4 separate regions of the Homo sapiens genome follow, and all the other regions are linked to region 1. The links come from fine-mapping of genetic effects on gene expression. A gene starts in region 1. Each other region holds a variant in brackets. All regions are shown on one strand. Distances are between the middles of the regions. Region 1 holds the start of GHRLOS (ghrelin opposite strand/antisense RNA). Region 2 holds the start of TATDN2 (TatD DNase domain containing 2). Region 3 overlaps LOC101927467 (a long non-coding RNA gene). Region 4 has its middle 6.6 kb from the start of ATP2B2-IT1.

Region 1 (8,101 bases):
GAGACAGGTTGGATGGTGGCTTCTGCCTACATAGCATGTGGGACTGGGTGGTCATAGGTGCTGTGGGAGCCACAGCAGGGGCCCATTATCATAGCCCAGCCAGAAGACTCAGGAGGTGATGCCTGGCCGGCTCCTTAAAGATGGTTGAGAGGGGTTGGCTGAATAACAAGGACTCTAGCACCCAAATCGGGTCTTGTCAGATGGCAGAAAAAGGAGGATGGGGCTGTCAGGGCCTTTGGGTACCTAAGCAGAATGAGTGAAGCCTCTGACCCCTGGCTGCTGCACACACCAATGATGAGGCAGTCAGTTGGCTTTTCTGGGTCGGTTGGTTTTTCATTACTTCATTTTGGGCTAACTTTGAAGGAAATGTAATGGTGGCTGGTAGGCCAGGGCTAAGGTGACCCAACGAGGTGGTATTGCAGGAGGAGGCCCTAAATTTACAGATTGGTAACTATATATATGGCACCAAGAACATGAACAGGTATCAGATTAAGAAAATCCACCTGTAGTTCGACTCCCCAGTATTTTGTTAGATTTCCTTTCAGTTCATTTGACTACTTGGGCATAGTTTTTATATGCTGTCGTTGTCATCATAGGGGCCACAGTTGTTGATTTTGCTCCTCTTCAGTGTTAGAAGCATTTCCTATCCCAGTGTGTTCTCTGTGGTGGTCATCTCAGGGGACTGCAGAGCACTCTGTGGTGTGCGTGGTATCTCTGAGTGATCTCTGATCACTCACCAAGTGCCATCTCGGGGCTTCCTGTGTTGGAGCCAGCCCTTGTCTGTGTTTACTGTGGAGTCCTTCCCTAGGATGCAGTCTTTCCATTTCTGGGAATCATTGAAAAGGGGTGATGGGTGTGGGGGGAGCTGGGGGCTGCTGCAGAGGGGACTGTGAGCAGCCCTGATGTGGAGTTCTGTCTCCAGGCATTGCTTCACCGGCAGCTACCCGGTCATTGAGCCCCTGCTGAAGTACTTTCCCAACATGTCTGTGGGCTTCACGGCAGTGCTGACATACTCCTCTGCCTGGGAGGCCCGGGAAGCCTTGAGGCAGATCCCACTGGAGAGAATCATCGTGGAAACGGATGCTCCCTATTTCCTCCCTCGCCAGGTAAGGGGGTCTTCAGGCTGAGTGGAGGCACCGGAGGGAGAGGGTGGGGAGGTGGGTGGTCACCCTTACAAGGTTGGCAGGGCCAGAGCCCCAGTGACTTCCAGGTCCCATCCTGGGCTGTGTAGATGCCTCCTTGCTGTTACTCTGCAGAACCAAAAGTCTAGGGGGCTGAGAAGCTGAAGGGTAACCACTCTCTTCCAGGCAGTGCAAAGCCCTACCCTGTAGAGGGTAGTCCAAGGAAGCGTGGGACCCTGCTCACCCAGAGCCCCCATGACTAGGACTCTCCCTGCACCTGCAGGTAAAGGGGTCTCTACAGGGCAGCCCCAAAGAGGTCCTTGCTGGGGAAGGGACAGGGAGGGAGTTCTAGATTATGACTGTGCACACATGGCACAATGATGTTATGACCACTTGATGTCTTCCAGGTTCCCAAAAGCCTTTGCCAGTATGCCCACCCGGGCCTGGCCTTGCATACGGTCCGAGAGATTGCCAGAGTCAAAGATCAGCCACTCTCCCTCACCTTGGCTGCCTTGCGTGAGAACACCAGTCGCCTCTACAGTCTTTAAGCAGAGAAGGTACAGTCCTCGGGAGTCTCCTAGAAAAGGTCGTAAAACTCACATTCTGTATTTTTTAAAAACCAGGACAAGTCTTTTGTTGCATTTTGTTAATGTAAAGAATATAAACATAGTATGAGCATTAAGCCTGATTTGTTTTGAGTGACATGGTTTGGAACCTTCTTCTTTTTCTCTTCCACCCTCCAGGGCGACCAGCAGCCTGACAGAACACAGGCTGGCTTGAAGTCTGTGTCTCAGGTCGAGGATGTGTTTAGAGAGCTGATTGGAACACAGAAAACCAGGACAGGATGTTTTCCTCCAAGCGGGTCATAAGGCTTCAGCTTCTGGGTGGTGGGTGGGGTGGGGTGGGCATGGAATGAGGGGTATGGGGACTGCCTGTAATAGCACTGGGATTTTGCCTCCCAGCCAAAATGCTCCAGGGTAGGCAGCAAAGAAGAAAGAGTGCGATATGAGGGTACAGTGAGTTTGGCAGTCCAAATTCTGTTCTCTGCAGCCTGTTTTTGAGTAGTTGGTGAATAAAGTCACCCGCCTACTTGTCTAAGCACATGTGGGTGTGTAACTCAGTTCCTGGTTCTCGGTTCTAAAAACAGACTTCCAACTGGGAAACTTTTTGGGGGAAATTAACTGGACACCTATCTCGGAGGTTTATTTTCTTGCAACCAGTGAAGTCGTCCTCCTCCCTTCCCTGGATAACTCTTCAGTTTGACTGTCACTGTTCTGGTGTCAACTCCAGCGTCGGCACAGGCAGAAGGACTTCAGCTGCTGGTCTCATTGGTTCCACTGCCATTGATATGGGGGGGTGCAGAGGAGCACTCATTGTCCATGATGGAGATCCAGGACAGACTGGGGGACTCCGGGAAGAGGCTTTCTTGGGGAAGAGGACCCCAAAGGAGGTACTTCCTCCTCACTGATGCCCTCAGGGCTGCTGTGTGGGTGTGTTAAGCTGATAAGGTTCAGTTTGCGGCGGAAACTACCTGCTAGTCTTGTGTCAGGGGCTGCCAGCCTCCTTTTGTTTCACTTTTGCCCCCTTCTTGGGAACATTTGACCAAAAATAATCCTCATTTCATCTTGTGTACAGTCCTTTGTGTACCCCGCCCAGGTTGAGAGGTGAATCAGCGTAATTCTCCGAAGCTCTGCTGGGCAGCTCAGCCATGTTACATTGTCTATGCAGAATAAGCAGGCCTGGTGTCTGCAAATGTACCAGTCCTTCTCCCGCATCTCCTGGGTGCCCCCTTGGCTTTGCCTCTCCTGTGTCCTGTCTTTCTGCGTTTTAGAAGTGAGAGCCTCTCCTTCACCTTTTGAGCAACTGAGTCATCTCAAGTCCTGAGCTCTGCTCTGCCGCCTGCTGGTGCCTTGTAAAGGTATACTCGTTACAGGCCCTAGAGGTTCTAATGGTCCAGGGTTAAGTGAGAGGAGACTGTACTTTGTTTCAAAGGATCCTTCACCCTGATCTGCAGTGAGGTGGATAGATCACCTGGAGTCCCTCGTCTGTGGTCTTGGAGGCTTAAATTGTAAAATACATCCCTTATGGAATCCTAAATTCCTCTAGGTGTTTTTGGAAGGCGCATTTGAGCCTTGTGAGCTAAAATGGAATGGATTTAATATTTCCTATCTGGCATTTCCATCTTGCCCCTGGTACACAAGTCACTGGCCTGGAACTCAGCCTTGATTCACTGTCCGTCTTCACGGATTAGCTGTGCTGTTATGTTGTCTGTGCTGCAGATTGGCCCATGTGGGAAGTCGGGGGGGACCTGATTTCCTGCTTGGAAGACTTGGGGGACTGCCGAGCATATCAAAGTGTTTATAGTCACCAAGTGAACTGCAGCACAACCATCTCCTCTCCAGCAAGCCCTGAAGTCAGTAGTGCCTGCAGGTGAAACCAACCAGCCCTGTGTTAGAGGAGGAAAAGCGGAGATGACATGGAAGTCTCCAAGCCTGTGCCATCCACCTGCCAAGGAAAAGCACAAGGTGCTATCTACTTTTCTCTCTAGGATTTAGATTATCATTTATGTGCTGTTGCACAGTGAAACCTCACCTGTGTGGGCGTGAAAGCTGATTGGCATTGTTTTTGATTCAGCTTTTTGGATGGCTAATTGTTTTCACTGTGCTGTGGGAATGCCTCTGTATTTTTTCCCCTCTTTGGCCATCTTTTTCTGAAAATAAAGTGATGGATCCTCTAGCCAACCCAGTCTCTCCGTGTTTGTATAGACTTACCTGAGTGATGCAGTGGTTTAGTCTGGTTGTTGGCCAGCATTGTAACCCAAGAATCCAGGTAGCTGGAGACTTTTTTTCTTTCTTTTTTTTTTTTTTTTGAGAAGGAGTCTTGCTCTTTTGCCCAGGCCAGACTGCAGTGGCACTATCTCGGCTCACTGCAAGCTCCGCCTCCTGGGTTCACGCCATTCTCATGCCTCAGCCTCCCAAGTAGCTGGGATTACAGGTGCCTGCCACCGTGCCCGGCTAATTTTTTGTATTTTTAGTAGAGACGGGGTTTCACCGTGTTAACCAAGATGGTCTCGATCTCCTGACCTCGTGATCCACCTGCCTCGGCCTCCCAAAGTGCTAGGATTACAGGCGTGAGCCACCGCGCCCGGCCAGCTGGAGACTTTCTTGAGTATCTATGTGGCTCTCTGTAAAATTAAACTGCATATAAGAATTCTTAAAGTTCGGCCGGGCATGGTGGCTCACTTCTGTAATCCCAGCACTTTGGGAGGCCAGGGCGGACAGATCACTTGAGGTTAGGAGTTCGAGACCAAGCTGGCCAACATGGTGAAACCCTATTTCTACTAAAAATACAAAAACTAGCTGGGTGGGGTGGCACGCGCCTGTAGTCCCAGCTATTCGGGAGGCTTAAGCTGAAGAATCACTTGAACCCGGGAGGTGGAGGTTGCAGTGAGCCAAGATCGCAGCACTGTACCCCAGCCTGGGTGACAGAGCGAGACTCTGTCTTTCCCCTCCCCCCGCCTCCCCCCAGAAAAGAATTCTTAAAGTTCTACAGCCTTAGAGTGTTAAGTAATTTTACTGTCTGGGAACTCAGATGCACTGCTTCTTTCTGACCTATGTAGGTACTTTCTTTTCTTTTTTTTTTGTTTTTTTTTTGTTTCCAGCTCAAGGCTGTAGGAGGAAGAAAAATCTAGTCCCTGGGGGTACTGATGAATCAGTTGGATGGTGGGCGTTGGACTGTGAATTCCTGATGCCTCTGGGTAAACTCTGGAGGAAATTCTGTTTCATTACTTGCACTCAGCCCTCCTATTTTGTACTAAGGTATTCTTGAATACAAGTGCACCGGCCAAAAAAGTAAACTTACGCATAAAAAGAAAGGCTCTCTTCCTTCCAAGAATGCTGAACACCTTTGAAGTCTCTGTTGCTGCCTCATCTTTTAGATACAATCATTGATTATGTATTTTTGGCATCGTCCTGAACTTTGTTTCATTTCCTTCACAGTTGAATGTGCAGTTGGCTTTGTCCACTCAGTGATGGTCCTTGTGACTGTTCTTGGCTTTTCTGTTGTTTTTCCATCTTTCTATAGGAAGCTTGAGACCGATACTCATCGTTTGCTTTCAGCACCTTAATTTTGCTTTGTTCATTTTTGTAAAGTAAGGGCAAATGGCCACCGGAATGTACAGTGATTAAAGAAGCAAACTCTGTCAAAGATGGTGATTAGTGGCCAGCCAGTCCCTCTCAGGATCACTGTATTAAAAAGTGCTCATTTGCCAGTGACATTTTTTTTTGGTTTTGGTTTTTTTTTTTTTTTTTTTTTTTGAGACTGAGTGTCACTCTGTCGCCCAGGCTGGAATGCAGTGGCCTGATCTCAGCTCACTGCAACCTCCACCTCCCAGGTTCAAGTGATTCTCGTGCCTCAGCCTTCTGAGTAGCTGGGACTACAGGCGCCCAATACCATGACTGGCTAATTTTTTTTTTTTTAAATTTTAAGTAGAGATGAGATTTTGCCATGTTGGCCTGTTTGGCCTTATACTCCTCATCTCAGGTGATCCACCTGCCTCGGCCCCCCAAATGCCAGTGACATTTGTAGGTGGATTCAGATTAAGGTGGGTAGCTTAGTTGAGGCGTCTCAACCCTTTTCTGTGCACTCTCTCAAGATGATTTCTGAACACACAACTATAAGTGCATGAGAACTTAAATACGTGTGCTCTTATGCTAATTATACACAAAGTAAAAGTTTTTTCACAAGGAGAATTTTTTTCTCCAGCAAATAGCTCGCTCACCCTAGGGGTACATACACCCCACTTTAGAGACCCTCAAGTTACAGTGGTATCATTAAACGATCCATAAAGGAGTGGGTTTAAGAAAGCTGATACAGGAACATGTTTGAAATAATACATTTTCTCAAGGGTGTCCTCCAACCATTTTCTTTGATAAATTATATTTCTGCCCATTGTTGACTTGAAATTGTCCTCACCCCTCTACCAAGTTCACCCAGTGTATTCTGAAGGAAAATGAATGAATATGGAAACCTCTCTCATCCTAGGCAGTAGAGCGAGGGAAGCTGCACTGGCTGAGAGGCTGTGGAACCGGATGAAAAAGCAGCCCCTGAGTCCTGTGGCGTTGGCTGTGAGTCGGCCACGTGCTTGCTGTGTGCTTTAGGAAAGTTACTTAATTTCTCTGAGCTTTAGTTTTCTCCCTCATAAGTAGGCTTGCTGTGAAAATGAAGTGAAATCACATTAATCTGCATGAGCATTTAACACGGTGCCTGGTGTACATCAGGGGTGTGACAGTGAGTGCTGGCTGCTGTAGTAATTGAATGCTTAGCTACGTGCCGGGCCCTTTGCCAGCTACAGCTCATGTGAGACCTCATGTTCAGTCTTGGCAGTAACCCAGCAAGGTAGGCATTTTACATGTGAGGAGCCTGAGAAATTCAGTCTTGGCCTGGATCACAGAGCTGGTATCCAAATTCAGGTCCGAGGCCAAAGCCCAGATCTTTGCACTACACCTTGTTGCCTGGCACAGGTGAGAGTGCCCAGCCCATAGTGGGTGCGCAATATCTGTTTCTATTTGAATGACCCAGGCAGGCGGTTAATAATGCTTGTGATTTCTTTGAGAGAGAAGTAAGTTCTTGTCTTTGGTGGGGGAAGCATCAGGTGACCAGCATTTGTCCAGAGCCTGGTACCCATCCTCTCCCAAGCCCAATCAGTGGTGCTTTCTCAAAAAGAAACCATCTCCTGACCACTTTGGCCATATTGGGCCTTTGCTCCTCTTCTGTAGCTATTGATAAGAGGGCTGTGGGCAGTTAGTGATAATCAAGGTCGTATCCCAACTAAGTGACAGAGCTGAGACAGTTAAGTTCCAGGACAAGTGTGTTGATCTCTGTACCCACTTGTGCCAGGTGCCTGGGGAGGTAGGGGCATGGCTGTCTGAGGGTGGAGGGGTGAGTAGGGGGCCTGCAGTGTGCTGTGACGCCTGGGAAGGGGATTCTAAGCCATTTCCCATCAGCCGTTTACTAAGTAGCCTGGGGATCTTGTTAAAATGCAGATCCTGATAGATTAGGGCTGGGGTGCTGCCCAAGATTCTACATTTCTAAGAGTCCCTGGATGACGGTGGCATTCACAGACCACAGCTTCTATGTGAGGGAGAGCAGTTGGGTTTCTGTCTGCCTGCCGCACCTGATCAGTAGTTAGTGCCTGCATGTGTGGCGGCCAGAATTTTACTTGGGGAGACGCTCGGCTCCTAGCACCCTCTGTGGTAGGGGTTTTCCAGAGTGTGGGCATTACCCCAACTGTCTCTGCAGACGGCTTCCTGCATGTTTCCCACAAGCGCTCAGATGGCTGAATTGGCAAGTCTGTGGTGCTGCTCTTTGGGGCCACCTCGTTCTTTGCCTTTCCCTCCCCTTAGCGATGTGTCCCATCCGTTGCCTACAGTCAAGTCAGTCCACATGTTTAGGCTAAGGTGGGCATGACCGAGTGGCCTTCCCCCGGGAAGACCAGTGTCGTAACTGGAATTAAGTTGTGGAACATAAGAGTCAAGGCTCGTGTCTGCTGTGAACTGGAGTTGAGGGAATGTTTGGGGATCCCACCTGGTATCAGTAAGGGAACCATGGCGACGGCCAGCCTTGCCCATGTGAGGCATTTGCTTTGTCAGGCCTTCTCAGTAGTGGAGAAGGGAGGAAGGAGAATGCAGCTCTTTCAGTGCTGTCTAGCAGTGCCCAAGAGCCGTGATTGGGCACCTCACTTAACGTCTAACTTCAGATTCACTCTTGGGCATTCCTGTCTTCCTCTCCAATCTTGAATGGATGTTGGCTTCGATAATGTCATCCTGAAGTTTCTTTGTCCACACAGCCCTGGCTGGTTGTTAATAAGCTGTTAATGCAGCCTTGCACTCAGGAAGCCCTGATGTTTAAAGGAACTGTGTCTTTGTTCTTCCTCTCTTCCCTCTTTCTCTTAGTCCCACTTTATCTCTTCTTTCTCTTCC
Region 2 (8,101 bases), 30 kb before region 1:
TGTATTTTTAGTAGAGGCGGGGTTTCACCGTATTAGCCAGGATGGTCTCGATCTCCTGACCTCGTGATCTGCCCGCCTTGGCCTCCCAAAGTGCTGGGATCACAGGCGTGAGCCACCACACCTGGCCTTACATGTACTTTTTTAATGGTTGAGGTGGAGCCATCTTTCTTATATTTAGGAGCGTTTCATGATTTGTTTTTGTTCATTGCTTCCTTTGCCTTTTTTTTTTTTTTTCCCTGAGACAGGGGTCTCACTTTGTCTCCCTGGCTGGAGTGCAGTGGCAGTAATCTTGGCTCACTGGACCCTCGACTTCCCAGGCTCAAGGGATCCTCCCACCTCAGCCTCCTGAGTAGCTGGGACTACAGGCGCCCACCACCACACCAGGCTAATTTTTGTGTTTCACTAGAGACAGGATTTCACCATGTTGCCCACGCTGGTCTCGAACTCTTTGCCTCAAGAGATCCACCCACCTCGGCCTCCCAAAGTGCTGGGATTACAGACGTGTGCCACTGGACCCAGCCTCCTTTGCCAGTCTTAATACTAAGTTATTTTATTATTTTGGGAGAATTGCTACATCGAATATCAGCCCTTTGTCATATGTTTCGAGTATTTTTCTGAATTTGTACCTTGTCTTTGATTTTTTTTCTTTTTTGAGACAGGGTCTTGCTCTGTCCTCCAGGCTGGAGTGCAGTGGCGGGATCACAGCTCACTGCAGCCTCGACCTCCCGGCCTCAAGTGATCCTCCCACCTCAGCCTGAGTAGCTGGCATCACGCCCAGCTAATTTTATTTTTTGTAGAGATGGGGGTCGCACCATGCTGGCCAGGCTGGTCTCTAACTCCCGAGCTCAAGCCATCCTCCCGCCTCGGTCTTCCAAAGTGCTGAGATTGCAGGCGTGAGACACCGTGCCCAGCCGTCTTTAATATTTTTCACCAGGCGGATAGTTCACATTTTTGTGTAGTCTTTTTTTTTTTTTTTTTGGTGCCTTCTAATTCTAATTCTTCCCATTTCTGGGTGTGTACTTAGTCTCTCTGAGCCACAGTTTTCTGCTCTATAAAGTGGGGTGATAATGCTCAGTACACGGTTTGCTTTGGCTCGATGAGAAATCCAGGTCTGAAAGCTTCAGGTACAGCGGCCGGCGCTGAGGAAAACAGCGTTAAGTGAGGCGCGTCAGCGGACACCACCTGCCTGCACATCTGGCTGGCCTCAACTTCCCGCTGTTCGAGCCCACGTGAGTGGCTCCGCCCCATCTGGCTTCTGACCAATGGACGAGCTTCCTAAGGCGTACCGTCCCGACTCCAAGGCGCCTGGCTTTGAGGCGGGCTGCGTCTTGCTCGGAGTCCCGCCCCTTGCCGGGTCGAGCAATGGGCGCCTTCCGTTTGGCGCAGGCCCCGCCCCTGTCGCTCTCCGGCCTGCGGGCCGCAGGGCTCGTTCCGGAGGGCGGGCGCCACGGAGGCCGGAGTGGTCGCAGTTCGGGCGGAGGCCGGGCCAGGCGGGGCTGTAGGGCTGGGGCAGGCGGCGGGCTGCCCGGCGGGACAGCTGCGGCAGCCGGCGGGGGGCGTCCTGAGTTGGCGGTCGAGGGCGCTGCCAGCTCCCGAGGGGCCGCTCGGGCCCCTTCCGGCCCGGGTCTGGTTGGGCCGCAGGAGCAGGGCGGGCTGCGGCGCCCGGGTCTGGCCCTGGCCTACGGGCTAAGCGCCCGGCCCCGGGGCCGCGGATCCGGCAGCCATGTGTGGATCTTGAAGCGCCATGTGGTCTTCTGAAGCGCTTGACAGTTCTAAAGGGCTTTATATTGCAAACTGATCAAAGCGCTTCGTAGCCCCGGAAGCGCTTAGGCATCTCCGAAGTAGCGCTGGGCAAAGTGAAGGCTTCCTGATCTCAGAAGCACGTTGTGGGCTTGGAAACCGACGGCAGCCTTTAGTCAATTTTGGATCGCTTTGACTTCTCCAACACGGTTTGGCATCTCTGAAACCTTGAGAACTGTGATGGGCAGTGGAAAGAAGAGGGAAAGGTCAGTGAGGCTAGCCCCTGGCTCTGCCCTTATGTCTTGCCGTCCTCCTGGGCCCGGGGTGGCGGGAATCTGAGGTGGGGTCGCCAGGAAGGGTGGTGTTGGAATCCAGGCCCCCTGTACCTTGCAGGTGCCCATGGCGTCCGAGCGGGGCAAGGTCAAGCACAACTGGAGCAGCACGTCGGAAGGGTGTCCCCGCAAGCGCAGCTGCCTCCGGGAGCCCTGTGATGTGGCCCCCTCCAGCCGGCCAGCTCAGAGGTCTGCGTCGCGTTCTGGAGGGCCCAGCAGCCCCAAGCGCCTGAAAGCCCAGAAGGAGGACGATGTGGCTTGCTCGCGGAGGTTATCCTGGGGCTCATCCCGCCGCAGAAATAACTCCTCCTCCTCCTTCTCCCCACATTTCTTGGGCCCTGGTGTGGGCGGGGCCGCCTCCAAAGGCTGCCTGATTCGGAACACTCGGGGGTTCCTGTCTTCAGGGGGATCCCCTCTGCGTCCTGCCAACGCCTCTTTGGAAGAAATGGCTTCTCTAGAGGAGGAAGCCTGCAGCCTTAAGGTAGGTGGCTGCCACGCTTTGCAATCGGTGAAGCCCCTTCCACATGGCTTGAGAGGTTGGGGATGGGAATTTTGGTGGAAGGAGACTACAAAACATTACATCCTTGAAGGTCTGGAAGGTCTTTCTAGAAGTCCACTCCCCCCAAACTCGAAGACCTAGCAGTCTTCCAGGCGCGTGGCCTGAAGTTAAGTAGAGAGGTAATTTTCAAACTCGGCAGCACTTTGGAACTACTTGGAAAGCTTTAAAATACTTGGGCCTGCCTCCTACTCCAGAGAAACTGATTTATTGGGCTGAGGTGTGGTCTGGGCTTCCAGATTTTTCAGTGCTCCCCAGGTTATTGTAAACGTGCAGCCCCGTTGGAGAATCACTGCAGTAGAAGGTGGATTATGTGCTCAAGAGAAGAATGTATTTATTTTAGTTGTCAGTTTAAAGAATTGTGTGCCCTTGTACTTTGAACCACTCTGAATCACAGAACCAAGAATTGCGGTTCTTGGTGTAGCTTTTCTCCAAAGTCATAGTTTCCAGCATGTTGGGGTTTTGCTTGGTGGTGCTAGTTTTTTTTTTTTTTCTTTTTTTTTTGGAGGTTAAATTGTTAATTCCCTAATGGAAACATGCAAGAGGGTTTCATAAGTACTTTGAGCAGACCAAGGAGTGCTTCACAGAGAAGATACATTTCGCTCATCTACTCAATCAAGGCTTTGAACAAATATGTGTTGAGGGTTTAGTTTGTGCCAGGCAATGTTCTAGGTGTTTGGGATTCTTTACTAACAAAACAGATCACTTTCCCCTTAGAGTTTGCATCCTAGATTTTGAAGGTCTGAGTCTTAAGAAGTGAGAAGTTCTGCCTGTGGAGGAGTGGAGAAACAGTCTTATTTGGGATCAGATGGGCTGCCTCTAGAGAAAATTACTTTACAAAAGCAATTAAAACAGGCCCTAAGGAATATGTGTTTGTTTTTAAGCCTAGCCTTGGTGGTTTCTTTTGTGTAGCTGAGAAAGGAGGCTGTATTTGACTGTTTGTCTTGGGGACTCATAGGCTAAGTGCCCCTGGTTTTTTCAATGTGGACCTCACTGTCTGAACTCTTGTGTGGGCACGTGGATTTTTTCTTTTTAAATTCACAAATAACAGTGAGTTGAAAAGCCCTGTCTCTAGCGTAGGAATGCTGAATTTGTCTCAAATCAGGTAAGTATGGGACTTTGCTCATACAAGTTAATCTTGCCATTAATCCTTGATACAATTTCAGTAGACTTGGGTACAGCATAAAATAATACCAGTTGATTCAATTTAGCTTCACTGACAATTTGTAGATAGAGTGAAACCTGTTACTGGGAGAGGCAGGAAATTTACTTTACATAGTCTTTCAGGTGTGCTGAATCCCTGGCTGTCCTAAAGACCTGGAACTCAGGTTTGAGGGTGTGGTCTCTAATCTGGGTGGGTCTAATTGTAGGTGGACCCACCTTTCTCTCATTAAGGCTAAAGGGGCCTTGTTTTGCAAGAACCCAATTTAATGGTTTCAGTAGAAGCACTTGAGGGTTATTGTGGGCCACGCACTGTTGGGTCTGGGAGTGATGAGCTTCTAGGGAGCAGTCTGGTGGGAGGGCTGGAGGAGTGGTCGCATGACTGCCCACAATGTGGTATGATGGAGTAGTGAGCCCAGAATGGAGGCTGGAGAGCGAGGTAGGGGGTGGATTGCAGCAAGGTTTTAGTAGCCAAGGGAATTTGGATTTTATCCTAAGGACAATGGATTTTATTCTAAGGGACAATTCCCTTAGAATTGTATTCTCTTTTTTTGAGACAGATTCTTACTGTGTCACCCAAGGTAGACTGCAGTGGCATGATCTCTGCTCACTGCAGCCTCCACCTCCTGGGTTCAAACAATTCTCCTGCCTCAGCCTCCCAAGTAGCTAGGACTACAGGTGTGCGCTACCGTGCCCAGCTGATCTTTGTATTTTTAGTGGAGATGGGGTTTCGCCTTGTTGGCCAGGCTGGTCTCTAACTCCTGACTGCAAGTGATCTGACCGCCTCAGCCTCCC[A/G]AAGTGCTGGGATTACAGGTGTGAGCCACCATGCCCGGCCAATTGTATTCTTATTTTAAAAAAATTATTTTATTTTTTTGAAACGATTTCCCAGGCTGAAGTGCAGTGGCGCAATCATGTCTCACTGTAGCCTCAAACTCCTGGGGTCAAGCAATCTTCTTAAATAGGTGAGAATATGGGCATGTGCCACCACACCCTGCAGATTAAAAATTTTTTTTTTGGGCTGGGCGTGGTGGCTCACGCCTGTAATCCCAGCACTTTGGGAGGCCGAGGTGGGCAGATCACGAGGTCAGGAGATTGAGACTACCCTGGCTAACACGGTGAAACCCTTTCTCTACTAAAAATACAAAAAGTTAGCCGGGCATGGTGGCGGGTGCCTGTAGTCCCAGCCACTTGGGAGGCTGAGGCAGGAGAATGGCATGAACCCAGGAGGCAGAGCTTGCAGTGAACCGAGATCAAGGCACTGCACTCCAGCCTGGGCAACAGAGTGAGACTCAGTCTCAAAAAAAAAAAAAAAAAAAAATTTTTTTTTTTGTAGAGATGAAGATCTCACTGTGTTGCCCAGGCTGGTCTCAAACTCCTGGGCTCAAGCTGTCCTCTTGCCTTGTCCTCCCAAAGCGCTGGGATTAGAGGCATGAGCCACTGTGCCAGCTGGATTGTCTTCTAAGCAATTAGAGAATTTATACAGGGCTCTACACAGAAAAGGAAATTGCATTGTAGAAAGATCACTCTTGTCGAGTGAGGGTTTTTATATTACCCTGATTGTCCATCTCTAGGACTGCTGAAGTCTCTTCCTGGAGTATATGTTTGTCAGTTTAAAAACCAAGTGTACAGTACTTGACTCATCTTGATGAATTACAAAACACCTCTTACCTTCCACCTTCATCTGTACCTCTTCCTCCCTTGCTCTGTGGTCATCTGTGAACTTATCTGTCCTGGTCCTAAGTCCTTCAGCAAGCACAGCCGAGGGGTACTCACAAAAATGGCATGTTCATCCTCAGGTCCTTCTAGAGTCCTCTCACTGCTCTCCTGTGTCTGCTCTGTAAACTTTTTTTTTTTGTTTGAGACAGGGTCTTGCTCTGTCACCCAGGCTGGAGTGCACTGGCATGATCATAGCTCACTGCATCTCAACCTCCTGGGCTCAAGCGATCCTCCTGCCTCAGCCTCCCAAGTAGGTGGAACTCAGGCGTGTGCCAACCTGCCTGGCTAATTTTTTTTTTTTTTTTTTTGAGACAGAATCTTGCTCTGTCACCCAGGCTGGAGTGCAGTGGTGCAATCTCGGCTCACTGCAAGCTCCGCCTCCCGGGTTCACGCCATTCTCCTTCCTCAGCCTCCCCAGCAGCTGGGACTACAGGTGCACGCCACCATGTCCGGCTAATTTTTTTGTATTTTTAGTAGAGATGGGGTTTCACCATGTTAGCCAGGATGGTCTCGATCTCTTGACCTCGTGATCCGCCTGCATAGGCCTCCCAAAGTGCTGGGATTACAGGCGTGAACCACCGCGCCTGGCCTGCCTGGCTAATTTTTTGTGTTTTGTAAAGACAAGAGTCTCCCTATGTTGACCAGGCTGGTCTCAATCTCCTGGGGTCAGGCAGTCCTCCCACCTTGGCCTCCCAAAGTGCTGGGATCACAGGCATGAGCTACTGTGCCTGGCCTTGCTCTGTAAACTTTGAGGGTTACACAGTTGACTTTGTTCCCTTCTCCCACCAGCCTTTAACACATCTTTCTCTGTGCCAGGTCACAGAATATTCTGAGGGGAAGGTGTTAGACTGGTCATTTTAGAATCGGTAGAGATCCCTGCTGGCTGACCTCACATCGTTCCCTTCTTACCTCCAGGACAGTTGGAGATGTTTCATGTTAGCTGATGATCTTCATTTACTCTTCACAGAGGAGACTAACTGTGTGACGAGCACCTTCATGTAGTAAAGATTATTTTTACTATGACATCTAAATGTCTACATTCAATTTAGAGTTGAAAGAATGGAAGGGAAAATTTGAGCATGTATGATAAGGCTTGGTCAACTATGATTCTCGATGTTTGATCTATAGACTATCACATAATCCCAAAAGTGTCGTGAAGTAGGTGGTATTATCTCCACATATCCATTAGTAAATACCTTCATATCAATTAACAAATATTTAAGCACCTACTCTGTGTAGGCACTGGGCAGATGAGATTCAGAAAGGTTAAATAAGCTGACCAAGGCCATGCAGCTGGTAAATGGCCGAGCTGTGGGGTAATATCAGATTAGTCCAACTTCAAAGCCAGTGTTCTCTGCACTGCTGCCTCTGGGAGCACCTGCTCTGTTCTAGCCTGGCATCAGATGTAGGGGTGGCAAGACGAAGGTGCCAGGGTCCCTCCCTTGCGGAGCTCTCTGCAGGGTGAGTTAGCCCAGGCACAGTAAAGCACTGGGTATTGAGGCTCTTGAGTGATAGAGCTTTTGCACATCCCCTTTCCTGCATCTCCACTTGGCACATGTCTAGTGCACACGTGGAACACCAGGCTTGGGGCTGTTGTTGCCAAGGACAATCGGGCCATGCTTCACAGACTGAGAAGTCACTCACCACGGGGCAGTGAGTGGAGAGCTGTAACAGGGATGGGTTTGGAGTACCCAAGGGTCAGGGGAATGAGCGACTGACCATCAGGAAGGTCCTCACAGAAGAGGTGACATCTGAGTCTTACTGATGGACAAGGAGGGGGACAGGACATTTCGGGCATAGGGAGCAATACATGCCCAAAATGTCAGGAAATGCTGCTTGTCTGGAGTGCTTGGGGCACTGCTGGCCCTCCCTTCTCTCATCCGTGCTCTCCTGCGTTCCCTGGACACTTGCGTGTTTGGAGGAAGGCAGGAGATGAGGCTAGACAGGAAGGCTGGGGCCAGTCTGTGAAGGGTTCCTGATGAGCTCAGGGGTAGGGATTATTCTGTAGGCAAATGTGGAGCCCTGGAAGGGTTCTAAACTAAGGCTGAAGTGGTGGGGTTTGCATTTTAGAGCTCCTCTGGCACGCTGCAGAGAAAGGGTAGGAGGGAGAAGACAGGGAGCTGGTGAGGAGCTGTTGAAATCCTTCAGGCTACTGGTGATAGGGCTGGAGCAACATCTCCACTTATCTTTCCTTCTTTCCTTTGGAGATGCACAGTTCACCAAGCAGTGCTTCCAGGAAGAACGAACTCTCCCCTTTATGAAGTCAGGTGGTTTGTCTCTTACCTTCTGCCCATGGTCTACCTACTTCTTACCTTTAGAGCCAACTGTCACCTGCTGAAACTCATCCTCGGTGTCGTTGATCCATCTTAGGTCCTCCAGCCTAGGAGAGTGTTTCTCACTTTCTCTCTTTTTTTCCCCCTTCCCCCTTCCTCCTTCCCACTTCCCACTCCCCCTCCCCCTCCCCCTCCCTCCTTTCCTGTCTGTCACCCAGGCTGAAGTGCAGTGGTGCAATTGGCTCACTGCATCCTTGACCTCCTGGCTCAGGTGATCTTCCTGCCTCAGCCTCCCAAGTAGCTGGGACTACAGGCGTGCACCA
Region 3 (8,101 bases), 790 kb after region 1:
TCCAGGGGAAGACCACCTTCCCATTCCATCCCCTTTCCAGCTTCCCATCCCACTGAGAGCCACTTTCATCAGCAATAAAATCCTCAGCATTTACCATTTTCAATTCATTCGTGCAACCTGATTCCTCCTGGACGCTGGACAAGGACCCTGGTGCGTGTGCAAGACGTTGTCAAACTGACCCTCCACTGAGCTGTCTAACACTTAAGCTGTCCATGAATGGCAAAACTAAAAGAGTGCACTGTAACACATGGGGCTCTGGGGGTCATGGGCAACCCCTAGATGCTGCTGCAGGCCTGCACAGAGTTCTGCTCCTGCCAGTTGCCCAGAAGCACTCCTCCTTACCTCTGCACCCACTCACCTGTGTGCTCCCCCTCCCATGAGGGGTTGAGAGCTATAGGCTGAGTAAGCAAGCCACCCCTTCATGAATCCCACAAAGGGGTCAAGGGAACTATCTCATTTCATTGATGAAGGTAAAATAAGAAATATTGTAAAGAAATGCATAGGCAATATGACAATTCTTTTGCATTAGAATATTTAATAATTACTAGTCGTGTGTCTAGAGTGAATTTCTGGATTGCACAGGATGTATAGTAATGTTGGTGGACTTAAGGATACTGAATTGTGTATCAGGAATAAAATATTCATTACGTGGGGTTTTGGGGCTCTAGGTAACACTGTAGCCTCTGGGGTAGACCGAGTGGGGGAAAGGTTGGAGGTTTGGAGGTAGGTTTCTTGTTTATTTGTTTTTGCTTTTTTTTTTTTTTTTTTTTTTTTTTTAGGAGTCTTACTCTGTCCCCCAGGTTGGAAGTGCAGTGGTGCAATCTCAGCTCACTGTAACCTCCGCCTCCCAGGTTCAAGCGATTCTCCTGCCTCAGCCTCCCGAGCTGAGATTACAGGCACGTGCCACCACACCCGGCTAATTTTTGTGTTTTTAGTAGAGATGGGGTTTCACTATGTTGGCCAGGCTGGTCTTGAATTCCTGACCTCAAGTGATCCATCCACCTCCGCCTCCCAAAGTGCTGGGATTACAGGCATGAGTCATGGCACCTGGGCTGTTTTTGCCTCTTTTTATTTGTTGTTCATTCTTCTTTGGATTTTGTTTGTGCATGCATATATACTATAGATTTTTTTTAGCATCTAGTGGAAGGCTTTTATTTGGTTCTGTGAATAGTTATTTTGTTTCATATGAATTTCTAACAAGTTATCACTTATTCTATTTATCTGGAATGCCTAGGCTGCCTTTGTTGGGCCCGCAGGAATTGATGGAGCACACCAGCCATTTGGAATTTGGTTTGTTTTGCTTACCTCTGATGATGTTGAAATCTATGAGCCCTTTAAGGATCCTGGCAAAAATAAAAGACTTGTTTTTACAAGTTCTGAGCAGAAATAGTACATTACATATTTCGTTATTTGGAAAAGTAGGTATGTTTAAATGTAATAAAGTAGGCATGTTTTAAAGTAGTAGAAATGTTTAAGTGATGTTTTTTCCAAGGTAATTCAATTAAATCAATGATTTGAGTTGGTTTCAGATCTTTTCCTTTAATGAGGAAAAACTGTGATATGGGTACAATTTTAATGTTCGAGAAAGACTGGCTTTGTCCTTAGGGAAATTATATTGGTTAGGATTTCTCTCAAACTAATTGAGTTGTGTTGATCATTATTAAAATTAAGGAATATTCATTTGGATTAAGTACTAATAAAAAATTCTGAGACTTTCTAGTGATCTCTGATCCCAGGCCATTTATCACTGATGGACCTTCATGTGTATACTTGAAAACAAAATATGTGCAGGCGTTGCACTGGTTTGAAGATTTTGGTGGTGAAAGTTACCTAATCAGCTGTCACTACTGTCTCTAGAAACCAGTCTTGGAAATGTGGGATGATGCTCTTTTAAATAACTGAAAAGAAATTATTGTGTACTTGTCCTTACTTTGTCCTTGTGTTGTTGTGTGATATTTAAGTGAAAGGAGATTATTTATCCTCTTACGGAATTGACAAAACTGACATTTGCATTTATCATTTTTTTAATGATGGAGAGAAAAGCTGGCTGTCTTATTTTGCCATAGGACCTATCACTTTTTGATGCTTTTGGTCACAGTTTTGTCACTAGAATACTAGCAATTAGATATATGCAGTGAGTAACCTAACTACTTAATACAGTGGTTTGAAGTGCTGCAGGCAGTAACTCCTAAAGGCCAAATTTCAGTGTTTTAATTTGTAACATGTTAGTGTGTCTGGAACTGGTGGGTTCTTGGTCTCACTTCAAGAATGAAGCCGCGGACCCTCGCGGTGAGTGTTATAATTCTTAAAGATGGTGTGTCCGGAGTTTGTTCCTTCTGATGTTTGGACGTGTTCGGAGTTTCTTCCTTCTGGTGGGTTTGTGGTCTCGCTGGCTTCAGGAGTGAAGCTGCAGACCTTTGCAGTGAGTGTTACAGTTCTTAAGCCAGCGCGTCTGGAGTTGTTCATTCCTCCCGGTGGGTTTGTGGTCTCGCTGGCCTCAGAAGTGAAGCTGCAGACCTTTGCGGTGAGTGTTACAGCTCATTAAGGCAGTGTGGACCCAAAGAGTGAGCAGCAACAAGATTTATTGCAAAGAGCAAAAGAGCAAAGCTTCCACAGTGTGGAAGGGGACCCGAGCAGGTTGCCACTGCTGGCTCAGGCAGACTGCTTTTATTCCCTTATCTGACCCCACCCACATCCTGCTGATTGGTCCATTTTACAGAGAGCTGATTGGTCCATTTTGACAGGGTGCTGATTGGTGCATTTACAAATCTTGAGCTAGATACAGAGTGCTGATTGGTGCATTTACAATCCTCCAGCTAGACATAAAAGTTCTCCACCAGATTAGCTAGACACAGAGCACTGATTAGTGCATTTACAAACCTTTAGCTAGACACAGAGTGCTGATTGGTGCGTTTACAAACTTGGAGCTAGACACAGAGTGCTGATTGGTGCATTTACAATCCTCCAGCTAGACATAAAAATTCTCCAAGTCCCCACCAGATTAGCTAGACACAGAGCACTGACTGGTGCATTTACAAACCTTTAGCTAGACACAGAGTGCTGATTGGTGCATTTACAATCATCTAGCTAGACATAAAAGTTCTCCAAGTCCCCACCAGATTACCTAGATACAGAGTGTTGATTGGTGCATCCACAAACCCCAAGCTAGACACAGAGTGCTGATTGGTGCATTTACAATCCTCTAGCTAGACATAAAAGTTCTCCAAGTCCCCACCTGACTTAAGGAGCCCAGCTGGCTTTGCCTAGTGGATCCCACGTAAGGGCCGTGGGCGGAGCTGCCCACCAGTCCCGCACCACGCGCCCACACTCCTTAGCCCTTGGGCGGTCGATGGGACCGGGTGCCACAGAGCAGGGGGCAGCACCTGTCAGGGAGGCTCGGGCTGCACAGGAGCCCACAGTGGGGAGGGGGGCAGGCTCGGGCATGGCAGGCTGCAGGTCCTGAGCCCTGCCCCACCAGGAGGCGGCTGAGGTCTGGCAAGAATTTGAGCGTGGTGCAGGCAGGCCGGCAGTGCTGGGGGACCTAGTGCACCCTCCATGGCTGCTGGCCTGGGTGCTAATCCCTTCACTGCCTAGGGCCGGTGGTGCCGGCTGCCTGCTCCGAGTGCGGGGCCTGCCAAGCTCATGCCCACCCGGAACTAGTGCTGGCCTGCAAGCGCCATGCGCAGCCCCAGTTCCTGCCCACGCCTCTCCCTCCACACCTCCCCGCAAGGAGAAGGAGCCGGCTCCAGCCTCAGCCAGCCCAGAGAGGGGCTCCCACAGTGCAGCAGTGGGCTGAAGGGCTCCTCAAGCACGGCCAGAGTGGGTGCTGAGGCTGAGGAGG[C/T]GCTGAGAGCAAGCAAGGGCTGCCAGCATGCTGTCACCTCTCATTAGAATGATAGAACTTTCTGTAATATAAACATTGTATTAATGAATGCTTGTGCTGTTAAGTTACAGGGCTTTGACTCTTGGGTCTGAAGAAGGCACCAGCCCCTGCTAAATTCTGAGCATTGACACCAGTGGAAGCCTCATCCTCAGACTTGGAAGAAGGTAACAATACAAATGAACTGTTTTTGTGAGACACAGGCCAGAAATTAAAACTATTCAATCCCTCTAGGCCCAGAGACTATTGCAGAAGTGGTAGGTGTGTGAAGTTATAAGGGCTGATTTTGAGGCATAAGATTAATTCAGAGTTTTTCTATAAATTAAACATTAATATCAAAAGCTCCCTGATGCAAGGCCAGCATCTGGGCCCATGTGTTGGAATAACAGGGTTTTCTTGGAACATTTATCTGTTCTTTAATAGAAAATTGGAAACAATTATTAAAAGTTTATGGAAACCTTACCTTATGGTCAAACTGATTGCAATTAGATTTTTATAAGGTTTTATTAAAATTAGCTTTGACATTAGTAATATACCATACAAAGGTAAAATATCGTTTTCTTTTGAATAAAATGTTTGTGTAATACTGAGAGATAAAAGATGATGTTGACCTTCTGAGTACACTGCAGGGAGATAATGGAGTGGAGAGAGAGATTTAGTTAGCCTCATGCTGTCTTTATTAGGTCTTACTGTTTGGGAAACTAAATCTATCAAAAAGTAAACGTCTTTATTTTATCACCTCCGCTAAATGAATGACTATTTTTACAGTGACTTGTGATATTATTTTGTGCCTAAAACTTCGCTATTTGGCAAACTTTTTTTTTTCTTTTGAGACGGAGTCTTGCTCTTTCACCCAGGCTGAAGTGCAGTGGCGCCATCTCAGCTCACTGCAAGCTCCACCTCCCGGGTTCACACCATTCTTCTGGATATTCGGCAGACTTCTAAGAGCAAACTTTCAAGTTCTAAATTCAGTCTCTTGACCTTAAACTAACTTTCTTGGATATTAGGTTCCCTGAAGTCTGAGAGAGACATATTAGGCTGATTTGTTACGTTAGGATTATGCAAGAAGCATTGCCAAATCTGAGATGATGTTTAACTTCCCTTGGGTTATATTTATATAGATGTATTGTTAGTATGTGTTCCAGGATTGTATGAGAGTCCTAAAATTCTGATACGTCTTAATATATGTTGTCAGTAGTAATTATTATTATATTAAGTTGTTTTATGCCACAGAAATGATTAAGTTTCCTTGTCAACTGTGTCTTTAACTATGGCTGTCTGAAGACTTTTGTCATCCACAATTGATGTTTTGCTGTGATCCTTCTCAAAAGAAAAAAAGTGACTTACAATCAGCTATAGTCCAAAGCTTCCTTCTTTGGAGGAGTTCATGAAAAAGACTCTTGAATGCAGGTTTCTGATAACTTTGGAGATTGTGCCACTAGATTAGAGAGAAAATTTCCAGGGCACTAATTGAAAGGCTGATGTGCTCATAAAGATTCCCAACCCAATACGAAGCAGAGCAGGAGGTGATTGCATGGACTGAACTAATGCAGGACAGAAAGAACTTTTTATGGCTTTTGTTGTTTGAAATATTGCTGATTCTTTTGGTTTTGTTTTTCAGAGTCTGGAGAATCTTTTTCTTTTGAGCTATTTATTTATAGCCTTTAAGTGTATTTATAGTCTTAAAGTATATATACTTCAAGGGTATTGAATGGAGTATGCTTTTATAAACAGAATTTGAGAGATATTTCTCTGCTTAATTTATCCAGAATATGGAAACTCTTTGTGAATATTCTTAATTCATGGTGTTTGTTTGCACACAATTAATAACATGTTTTCTTTTGTAATGGGACACAGTTGGAGTAACTGGTTATCTTCTCAAGGCTTTGACTGAAATGGCCTTGTGAGATTCCAGCAAAGCCAATTTGGGAGTCTATATGGACAATGATTCTTGTTGCACTTTGTGGGTTATCAGGCCAAGTATATGGAACTGAAGCTTATTTTGCAGGTAGAGTGGTCCTGCTGTGATTGTCTTTGGTGGAAGTGGGGAACTGGAGAGAGAAAGATTGAGTGTCAGAAGAAAACTCTATATTAGATTAACCTTTGATTCCTGGGTGGCCACTGCCTAGGACACCCATCCTCAGAATGAAACAGCCAGAAATACTCAGACCAGATTCCTCATGATTGAGGGATTGATAAGTAGAAAGGGGAGACTGAAACCAGCCCAATTGCCCCACAGACCATTATTTTTGATAACTATAGAAATTGATCCTTCTGGGCTTAAAGCTTGAAATTTACATCTGTTTTATGTGAGTTCCTTCCTCAGGAAAGGAACTTCAGGCCTCTCAAAAAAGTATCAAAGAACTAAAACTCACCAGATCACTACACCAGATAGTACCCCTCATTCTCATGATTGCTTCCTTGCCCCCCCCACCCCGAGTTCCTGTTTTCTTACACATAGTTACATTTCTTCCCCGCTATATAAAGCCCCAGTTTTAGTAGGTCAGGGAGATGGATTTGAGGCTGAGCTCCCATCTCCTGGACTGCAGCACCCAGTTAAAGACTTCTTCCTTGGCAGTACTCATCTCAGTCATTGGCTTTCTGTGTGGCAAACAACAGGACCTACACCAAACCCTTGGTGTTTTGGTAACCAATTGAGGGACCTGATATCAGTGAGCAGCTTCCCCTCCAACTCAGCTTCCCACCTTAGGGACCCAGGCACCAGGTTGGATGCTTCCACATCCTCCCACCCTATATCCAGTCATTGGCTCCTGTTTATTTTACCTCTTAAAGTACTTCCCAAGTGTATCCGTATCTCATAACCCCAACCACAAACCACTACCCAACTCCCATGACTGCCATCCCTTGCTGTAAAGCAGCTGAGCCTTCCACTGGCCTCTCCACCCACATTGCTGCTGTGGTCTTGTATCTGGAATTGGTTCCTTTCAGTGGGTTCTTGGTCTCACTGACTTCAAGAATGAAGCCACAGACACTTGCAGTGAGTGTTACAGTTCTTAAAGACGGTGTGTCCAGAGTTTGTTCCTTCAGGTGTTCAGATGTGTCCGGAGTTTCTTCCTTGCAGTGGGTTCTTGGTCTCGCTTGACTTTAGGAGTCAAGACACAGACCTTCGCAGTGAGTGTTACAGCTCTTAAAGCTGGCGCATTGGGAGTTGTTTGTTCCTCCCGGTGGGTTCATGGTCTCGCTGACTTCAAGAGTGAAGCTGCAGACCTTCACAGTGAGTGTTACAGCTCATAAAGGTAGTGCAGACCCAAAGAGTGAGCAGCAGCAAGATTTATTGTGAAGAGCAAAAGAACAAAGCTTCCGCAGAGCGGAAGGGGATCCCAACGGGTTGTCACTGCTGGCTTGGATGGTCAGCTTTTATTCCCTTATTTGGCCCTGCCCACATCCTGCTGATTGGTCCATTTTACAGAGCACTGATTGGTCCATTTTACCTAGTGCTGATTGGTCTGTTTTTACAGAGTACTGATTGGTGCATTTACAAACCTTTAGCTAGACACAGAGTGCTGATTCGTGCATTTTTACAGAGTGCTGACTGGTGCGTTTACAAATCTTTAGCTAGACACAGTGCTGATTGGTGCATTTTTACAGAGTGCTGATTGGTGCATTTACAAACCTTTAGCTAGACACAGAGCACTTATTGGAGCATTTTTACAGAGTGCTGATTGGTGCATTTACAAACCTTTAGCTAAGCACAGAGCACTAATTGGTGTGTTTTTACAGAGTGCTGATTGGTGCATTTACAAACGTTTAGCTAGACACAGAGCGCTGATTGGTGTGTTTACAATCCTTTAGCTAGACAGAAAAGTTCTCCAGGTTCCCACCCGACCCGGAAGCGCAGTCAGCTTCACCTCTCAGTCCTTTTAAAATGCCACTCTGGCCATGTCATGCCACTACTTTCTCTGGCACCCAAGGCCCTTTAGGATGCAGCCTCTCACCCTCCAGCCTCCCCGCCCATGCTCCAGACCCACCAGTCACCTAGCTCCTCTCTGTTTTCCCACCTCTGTGCCTTTGCACATGCTCTTCCTTCTGCCTGTGGTCCCTTTCCACTGTCTTTAGTGGGAAAATTCCTGCACATTTTCAAGCCCCCAGTTCAAATGCACTTTCTCTGTGAACCTCCCCATTGGTGTCGCCTGGCAGAGGGACTGAGCTCCACCAACACCCCCAGCACATCTTCACTGTAGCACCCGGCATGCAGTATCAGCA
Region 4 (8,101 bases), 300 kb after region 1:
CTCCAAGTCCAGTGCTCTTTCTATTCTACCAGAGACAGGAACACAATAAGGCTTCATCTAATCACTAATGATGGAATTTCAGGCATCTGCAGACGGGACGTGCAGATTCCTGGTGCATCTCAAATCATGTGAACAAGACAATCAACACACAAAGCAATTTCTGCCCGCAGGTTCCTTTGACACAATGATAATGAGATAAAATGGTTTTTATTTTCCTCTTCTTTCTTTTTAAAATCAAGCCAAATACATTTTTTTTTTTTTGCATGGAATATACTCTAGTTTTGGACAGGGTTAATTAAAAGAAAAAAATACATATTAAAAGGCCAATTTGATTACTGCTACACATTAGTAATGCAATGAATAATTGATTGAATGTCTATGTTAATTGCTTCCTGAATCAGTGATTTTGCTGCTGAATTTCGAAGAGCTGTTGCTATTTTGAAGTTAGTGATAAGTTCACTGCACCAGGATGGCAGAACTTGGCACAGAGAGTAAGCTCCTGCATGGCACCCCACCTCTACTTCCTGTTCACCCCCTGCCTCCCTGACTGCATGCTCAGTCTCTTCCCTAGAACTTTGATCACTACCTGTTCCTGAAACAAGAGGGTCTCAAATTTTGGTCAATTTCAGATTTCTGGGGGAGCTTGTTGAAATGCATATTCCTGTGTCCCCATCCAGGTTTTGATCCCAGGCCTGGGACTCTGTATTGTTAACAAGTGTCTCAGAGGCTTGGTTGGGTACCATCCTTCAGCAAGAACTGGCTGGGGTAGAAATAGCCTATGCTGAGCCAGGCTCCAGACTCTGAGAGCAACGCCATCTTACTCTCTGGGTTCCTATCTACTGCTTCTTTGCTGGTAGAGTGCCCCATTCTATACAAACTGTTCCACTGGGACGTCCTGGAGACTCCCTGACTAAACTCATCTAAAAAGAAGCCTTCTTCAATTTGCTTTTCCTCTGGGAGCTGTCAGCCCAGCAAATACGGCGTCTGCCTGGTCCTGCTTGCTCAAACCCAGATCCTTTCTGGTCTCTCACTGGTCCTTCCCCAAACATTCACTCAGCAGCCAGACTCTGCCTGTCTCCCCCCATTATAAATCCTATTGACACGTTCAATTCTGCTATTTCAAAAAAATTTGTTTCCAGAGATTCTTCTTGTTCTCCCAGGGGTCCTTTTATTGCTTCTCCCTCTTGTCTTATCTCCCAGCAATGTTAATTAATTGCAGTGGGTTTTGGAAGTTATCTTCTGCTTTCTGCTTTGCCTCTATTTTCTCCCAGTTTCTTTCTTCTGGGTTTTGGTTCCTGCCTCCCTCCGATGCCCGCTGAGCCTAGGAGTCTATTCCACATAAGGGGGAAACATGAAACTGCTGATTGTGAGCTCTGTGGGGTAAGGTGGTCGCTGAATGGTGGGCTTCACCGAGGTGGCTGAGCTGTGCCCCGGGAGGCCCCCACACAGCAGTGGTGATGGCTGTTTCTTTTGGTGCTGGTGACTTTCCCTAGAGCAGAATCATCTGGTCCTCTGCCTGGAGGATCTGCCTGGGCCATCTGTCTGCCTGGCGTTCTCAGAGCATACTAGGCAAGGGGCATTCTCCATATCAACCTTTTCTTCTATTGATTTTCAGTCCATCTCATCCTTTTAACAAGGTCTAGATGATGCTTATCTCCCTGGTGGGCATTTTGGGTAATTATTAGTTTCTTTTTTCCTTATCTCTAATTTATAATTATTATTTACATTTCTCTATACACAAAGTCACTTGTAAAACATGGAGCACACATATTTAAAAGTAGTAATATCTACTTGGAATGATCTTTTTAAGATTAAATTAGATCATGAGTGTAAGGAACCCTGCAAAGCTTACAATATTAATTTAAAAAGTAAACAGGTCTCAGCTGTGTGGGGGAAGGAGGAGTGGACTACTTCGGGGTGGGAGACTGCACGGTAGGGGAAGGATGTGTGGGTATGGAAGACCCGGTGAGGAGGGGGATATGAGGGTGGGATTCTTGGGTTTGTCTGTCCCTTGCAGGGAGTGTGGTGGGAACAGCCATTCACAAAGGGCTGGCTGACTTGACACCTGGGCCTGTGTCTCAGGGCCTGCCGGGCTGGGACACACCCAGACCCCACATGTCAACAAGGGCCTGAGTAAACCCTGGTATTTCTGAATCCTTGGTGAAGTCCCCGCTGCCGACTGCTCAGTGCCTGGGGTCACAATACAGCCTTTCCGCCCGGGGGAGAAAGCTGAAAGAAAGAGCTGGAAGTGGGGATAGGTTCCCCAACCCCTCCTCCCACCACTTAGGCTCCAGCACCAGAAAAAGCCATCTGGATCACAATTCAGAATTGCTGGGCAGAGGGTGTACCTGAGGGGAGGTGCAAGAAGGCTGAGCCTGAGGGCCCTATATGTCTGTAAAGCTCAGAGGGTTATTATGCCCCATTTTGCAGATGAGAAAACTAAGGCCAATGGGGCTCAGACAAAATAATAATTATAGAGAAGAGGTCATTGGGAAAATGACCTCCTAGAGTTCTAGGGAGGATTCAACGAAAACAATCCATATAAAGTCTTTAGATAAGAGTTTCAGTTGGGGAAGATGAAGAATTTGTGGAGATGGATAGTGGTGATGGTTGCACAATGATGTGAATATATTTAATGCTGCTGAACTACACACTTATGGGAGCTATGGAAGGCTCTTGAGCAGGGGCAGTGATAGGTGGACACTGACTTGAGAAGACTTAGCTGGCAGCTCATGCATGCTAGGTTATGTCTGGGGTAGAGAGGATGAGAAATGTGCATAAAAACACCAATACCTGGAGAGGAGAATTTCCCCTGGGCTGCTGGCTGGCAGCCCTCTGTTGTCTCTGGTGTCTGAGGGAAGTTGTGCTGGCAGGGAGGCTCTATGTAGGGTTGCATTTGGGAGTTTTGCCCAAATCTATGGGCTTCTAGGATAACCTAGAGAAGCGCTAGTTATTTGAGGGAGAATCTGACTTCTGGAAACTGTCCAAAATCTGGGCCTTAGAGACCCCATGTGTTCAGTTCTGAGCAAGATAGGAAACCTTAAAATTGTCCCTCATGTCCAGGGATGCGTGGCCCTTAACAAGCACTTGGCATGGATGGCCTCACTCCCCTGCACAATGACCCTGTACCGCAAATGCTGCTAACGTGTTCATTTCACACATGG[C/T]GAAGCTGGGGCTTTGCCTAGGCCCTACAGCTAGTTGCTGGCAGAGCAAAGTTACAAAGCCAGGTTTGCTGACTGGAGGTGTCCAGGCCTCCAGATGCCTTAGCCCCTGTGCTGACTGCCCCCGTGGATGGACCTGGCACCAGAAAAAGGGCAGGGCCGAGGATGTCCTGCGCACACTCGGCAGAACGTCCTTGCAGGCATGAGCATGCTTCTCCTGCGGCCTCACTCCACACTCCGAGGCTTCCCTTCTCACTCAGGCTGCTTAGGCCGAGTGTACGGTGAACACTGAGCTCAATCAGAATGATTGTTCTTATTATTATTGTTATTTTTTGAGACATCATCTTGCTCTGTTGCCCAGGCTGGAGTGCAGTGGTATCATCATGGCTCACTGCAGCATCAACCTCCTGGGCTCAATCAATCCTCCCACCTGTCTTCTTAGTAGCTGAAACTACAGGTGTGGTGCCACCTTTCCCGGCTAATTTTTAAATTGTTTGTAGAGATGGGGTCTCACTATATTCCCCAGGCTGGTCTTCAACTCCTGGCCTCAAGTAATCCTCCTGCCTCGGCCTCCCAAATTGCTGGGATTACAGCCATGAGCCACCACACCTGGCTCAGAATGATTATTTAAAGGTCCAGAGTCCTTTTGAAGAGCTGGAGGGAATGACGAGCTTGGCATAACGTGGGAGGCTGTCTTCAGGACAATATAAGAAGCTGGGGCCGGGCGCGGTGGCTCACGTCTGTAATCCCAGCACTTTGGGAGGCCAAGGTGGGCGGATCACAAGGTCAGGAATTCGAGACCAGCCTGGTCAATATGGTGAAACCCCGTCTCTACTAAAATTAGCCTGGTATGGTGGCGGGTGCCTGTAGTCCCAGCTACTCGGGAGGCTGAGGCAGGAGAATTGCTTGAACCTGGGAGGCGGAGGTTGCAGTGAGCCAAGATCACCACTGCACTCCAGCCTGGGTGACAGAGTGAGACTCTGTGTCAAAAAAAAAAAAAAAAAAAAAAGAAGCTGCCTGGGTATGGTCCTTGGGCCAGCAGCCTCATTGTCACCTAGGAACTTGATGGAAGTCCAGGCACTGAGATCCCATTCCAGATCTACTGAGCTGGAATCTGCAGTTAGCAGGATTCCTGGAGAATCACATTCACCTTAGGACTTGAGAATCACTAGGCTGGGAGGCCAACAGGTGTGGCAAAACCGCCAAGTTGCCATAGGGAATCTTGGGAGGCTCTGGGGTTCCAGACACTGGCTGAGATTCCTGGCTTCTCATCTAGTCTTTCCATTTATGGAAAGTGGCAAGAGTTCAGAGATAGGAGGTAACTTTCCCAGTGTCACCCGGCAAGACAGGAGCAGAGCTGGTATAGGATCTCAGACTTTTGGTGTCCTCTTCCTCAGCTTTAATCCCCAAGGCCATCAGGGGATCCCAGGGCTGCAGAAACCATCGGCTGGGCCAGGGCCAAGCAGGAGTCTCCTGAAGCTCCATCATCCTCATTAATCTCCCAACCTCAGAACGGGTTGTTTTCCTGAGAGGAACAATCAGTGCCTTTGGGGACAGAAAACCCCTGGGAGGGGGACTCAGAGAAGGCCCTGGGCTGCACAATGTAGATGGTGTCCTGCCAGCTCCCAAAAGAACAATCTTTCTTGGCAAGCTCATGGGGATGCATTCCCGGCAGCGTGACTCGGAATGGCAGGGTTACCGGGGAACCTGGGATCTCCCTGGGGATGCCAGAGGGAACCCGAGGCACTGTGCCAGAGGAGGATGAGCACTGAGCTGAGAGTCCACAGACCAGCAGCCTGGTCCAACACTGCTGCTGATGGTTTTCAACCATCCACTTCCTGTGCAGAAAACACTAATAACTATTGCTTATATTCTGATTCTGTCCATGAGCTCCATGACTCTAACTGTGGCTGTGACACAGTCCCGAAATCCAGAATCCCAGAGTCCAAGTCTCTACTCTGTCTTCAGTAACCCTGTGATCTAGGCCCTAGATTCCAGGGCAAGGGGCTCAGCATCTCTGAGGCTCAGTTTCTGCTTCTATGTAATGGGTATGATCACACACCTACCATAGTGGCGAAACCTATAATGACTGACTGTATCAAGTGTTGCTGGAAACATGGAGCAACAGAGGCTCTCATACGTTGCTGGTGGGAGTGTGAAATGGAACAGCCATTTTGGAAAAAGTTTTGGTAGTTTCAAGTAAAGCAAAACCTACACCTACCCTATGGCCCAGCAATCCCACTCCACATAAGAGAAATAAAAATATATAGGAGATCGAGATCATCCTGGCTAACATGGTGAAATCCCGTTTCTACTAAAAAAAATACAAAAAATTAACCAGGTGTGGTGGCACGTGCCTGTAGTCCCACCTACTCGGGAGGTTGAGGCAGGAGAATTGCTTGAACCCAGGAGGTGGAGGTTGCAGTTAGCCGAGATCTCGCCACTGCACTCCAGCCTGGGTGACAGAGAGAGAGTCCATCTCAAAAAAAAAAAACAAAAAGAAAAACATATATATGTATATGACCACCAAAGACTTATACACAGATATTCATAGAGACTTAATTCACTATAGCTTAAGACTGGAAACAACCCAAATGCCCACCCACAAGAGAACAGATGAACAACTTGTGATGTAGTCTGACAATGAAATACTACACGGCTCTGAAAATGAATGGACCATTGATACCTGGAGCACATGGGTGATGGATGAATCTCACAATGTTGAGTGAAATAAGCCAGGCAGGAAGAGAACACACCATGCGATTCCATTTATATGAGGTTCCAGAGTAGGTGAAACTAATCTACCGTGGTAATGGTCAGAGCAGTGGTCTCCTCTGGAGGGCAAGGAGGGATCCACTGGGAAGGGGCGGTGGCCTCCTGGGGAGGTGGCAACGTGCTACAGCTGGATCTGGGTATTGGTCATGCATGTAGAAACAGAGGTAAAAATTCACCCAGGAGTGCACTTGAGATTTGCTCATTGTACTGTGCAGTTTTACTCAATGAGAGAAAGAAAGATTAAGCCATGTGGGAGGGATGGGGAGGACCAGGCCTACCTCCCAGGGAAGTTCTGAGAATGGTACTAAAGAAGACCATGAGTCCTGCTCATAGTGGATGCTCAACCAACGATTGCTAAAGATAAGTTGAAGTTTTGTAGGGGAGGCACCTCTCATTCTCTTGGGCCTCAGCTTCTTGCTCTGTAAAATGGGAATAATGAGCTTGCAGCTCGTGGAGATGATGCTGCAAATGTGCCCAGAACAGGGCTCGCCTCCTGAGTGGCCAAGGTGGGGTCTGTGCAGCTGCCCTTCACTTAGAAACAGACTGAGAAGGGCCCAGTGCGGTGGCTCACGCCTGTAATCCCAGCACTTTGGGAGGCCAAGGCAGGCAGATCCCCTGAGGTCAGGAGTTCAAGAGCAGCCTGGCTAACATGGTGAAACCCCCATCTCTACTAAAAATACAATAATTAGCTGGGCATGGTGGTGCACACCTGTAACTCCAGCACTTTGGGAGGTCGAGGCGGGCAGAGCACCTGAGGTCAGGAGTTCGAGACCAGCCTGGCCAAAATGGCAAAACCCTGTCTCTACTAAAAAATACAAAAATTAGCCAGGCATGGTAGTGAATGCCTGTAATCCCAGTTACTTGGGAGGCTGAGGTAGGAGAATCACTTGAACCTGGCAGGCAGAGGTTGCAGTGAGCTGAGATCATGCCACTGCACTCCAGCCTGGGCAACAGAGCGAGACTCCGTCTTGAAAACAAAACAAAACAAAACAAAACAAAACAAAACAAAGAAACAGACCCAGAAGGTGGGCCTCAAAGTGCCGCCCCACAGTTTCCCCTTCCATGAATGTAGCACAAGTGACTCCATTTGGCTCAAAAAAGTTTCTAACGCCTCCTGGCAGGTGGAAGTTCTGAGCACCCTGGTCACAGAGAGGCCCAAGGGATTCAGAATGCAGTGATCCAGGGGCTCTAATGGCAGGGATAGGCTGAGGTCCCACCCACTGACAGCCACTCTTCCGGTCATCCTACATCAACAGGGGGAGTGTGGATTACGGGCCATGTATAGGCAGAGGAACTGAGGCTCAGAACAGGTGACAGGGCTGGATGGCAGGGGAACGAGACTCAAGTCCTGGTCAGTGTGACCCCAAATCCTGTGCTCATCTTAATATATCAATAGGAAACGCGGAATACTCTAAAAACCAAAGAACACTTGTGTACCAGCTACATGACTCTGGGGGAGTCATTAGCCTCTCTGGGTCTCAGTTTCCCTGCTCCACTGGAACCGAAGCTCTTATGAGGGCAGGGGTTTCTGTGTGTCTTGCTCTTCTTGTGGCCTCAGCACACAGAACAGTGTGTGGCATAGAGCAGGTGCTCAGCAAATACTTGTTACATAAAGGAAGCAGTGATTCTGTGGATGAGGGTGGCGTGTAAGGTCAGCTTGGCCTGGTCCCAACCGACACCTCCGGCCCTTCCCACGATACCCCTGCAAAATGCTCAGTGCGGCTCCTCCCCTACCACCCTCCTCTGCTTCCTCATCTTTGGGCCTTATCCCTGTCCGCAGCCCCTCCTCCCTGCCTCCCCCTCCCTGTCTCCCTGCTCCCACGCCTTGTTCTTCTTCACAGAAACTTTCATGCCTGGGAGTGGGGCGAGAACTCTCTCTTCTCTGATCTTTTATAGCATTTCAGAGATCACATAGGTTTCTCCATAGACCAGGTGCTGGCCCAACCACAGCCTGTGGCCACATCAGGCTTCAATTGCTTCTTGTAAGTAAAGTTTTATTTGAATACAGTCATATTCATTTGTGTGTATCCATGGCCGTTTTCACATATTATATAGCAAAGTTGAATCATTGCGACAGAAGTCATCTAACTTGCAAGGCCTGAAATATGTAATCTGGCCTCTTACAGAAATTTGCTGACCCCCGTCATAGATTAAGTACAGGCTAT

What was found.
Region 2: its variant is fine-mapped to the expression of GHRLOS in whole blood (TOPMed, PIP 0.90).
Region 3: its variant is fine-mapped to the expression of GHRLOS in nucleus accumbens (GTEx, PIP 0.98).
Region 4: its variant is fine-mapped to the expression of GHRLOS in vagina (GTEx, PIP above 0.99).

The regions. Positions count from the first base shown.
Region 1 is chr3:10,277,357-10,285,457 of GRCh38, forward strand. It overlaps GHRLOS (ghrelin opposite strand/antisense RNA), which reads left to right and starts at 3,596. Exons shown (of 6, transcript NR_073568.1): 1 at 3,596-3,646; 2 at 6,165-6,247. It overlaps TATDN2 (TatD DNase domain containing 2), which reads left to right. Exons shown (of 8, transcript NM_014760.4): 6 at 923-1,106; 7 at 1,529-1,707; 8 at 1,865-3,862. The coding sequence ends at 1,669. MIR12127 (microRNA 12127) reads left to right here and starts at 2,995; the gene lies at 2,995-3,096. It overlaps LINC00852 (long intergenic non-protein coding RNA 852), which reads left to right and starts at 7,063. Exons shown (of 1, transcript NR_026829.1): 1 at 7,063-8,101.
Region 2 is chr3:10,247,062-10,255,162 of GRCh38, forward strand. TATDN2 (TatD DNase domain containing 2) reads left to right here and starts at 1,398. Exons shown (of 8, transcript NM_014760.4): 1 at 1,398-2,006; 2 at 2,134-2,553. The coding sequence starts at 2,140. RefSeq lists a silencer at 1,284-1,713 and an enhancer at 1,966-2,834. The variant A/G (reference allele first, on the strand shown) is at 4,585.
Region 3 is chr3:11,067,895-11,075,995 of GRCh38, forward strand. LOC101927467 (a long non-coding RNA gene) reads left to right here. Exons shown (of 3, transcript NR_188517.1): 2 at 3,946-4,044. Among named protein-coding and RNA genes, the nearest start is that of SLC6A1-AS1, 53 kb to the left of the region's middle. The variant C/T (reference allele first, on the strand shown) is at 3,842.
Region 4 is chr3:10,572,904-10,581,004 of GRCh38, forward strand. It overlaps a transcript of ATP2B2 not described here. Among named protein-coding and RNA genes, the nearest start is that of ATP2B2-IT1, 6.6 kb to the left of the region's middle. The variant C/T (reference allele first, on the strand shown) is at 3,165.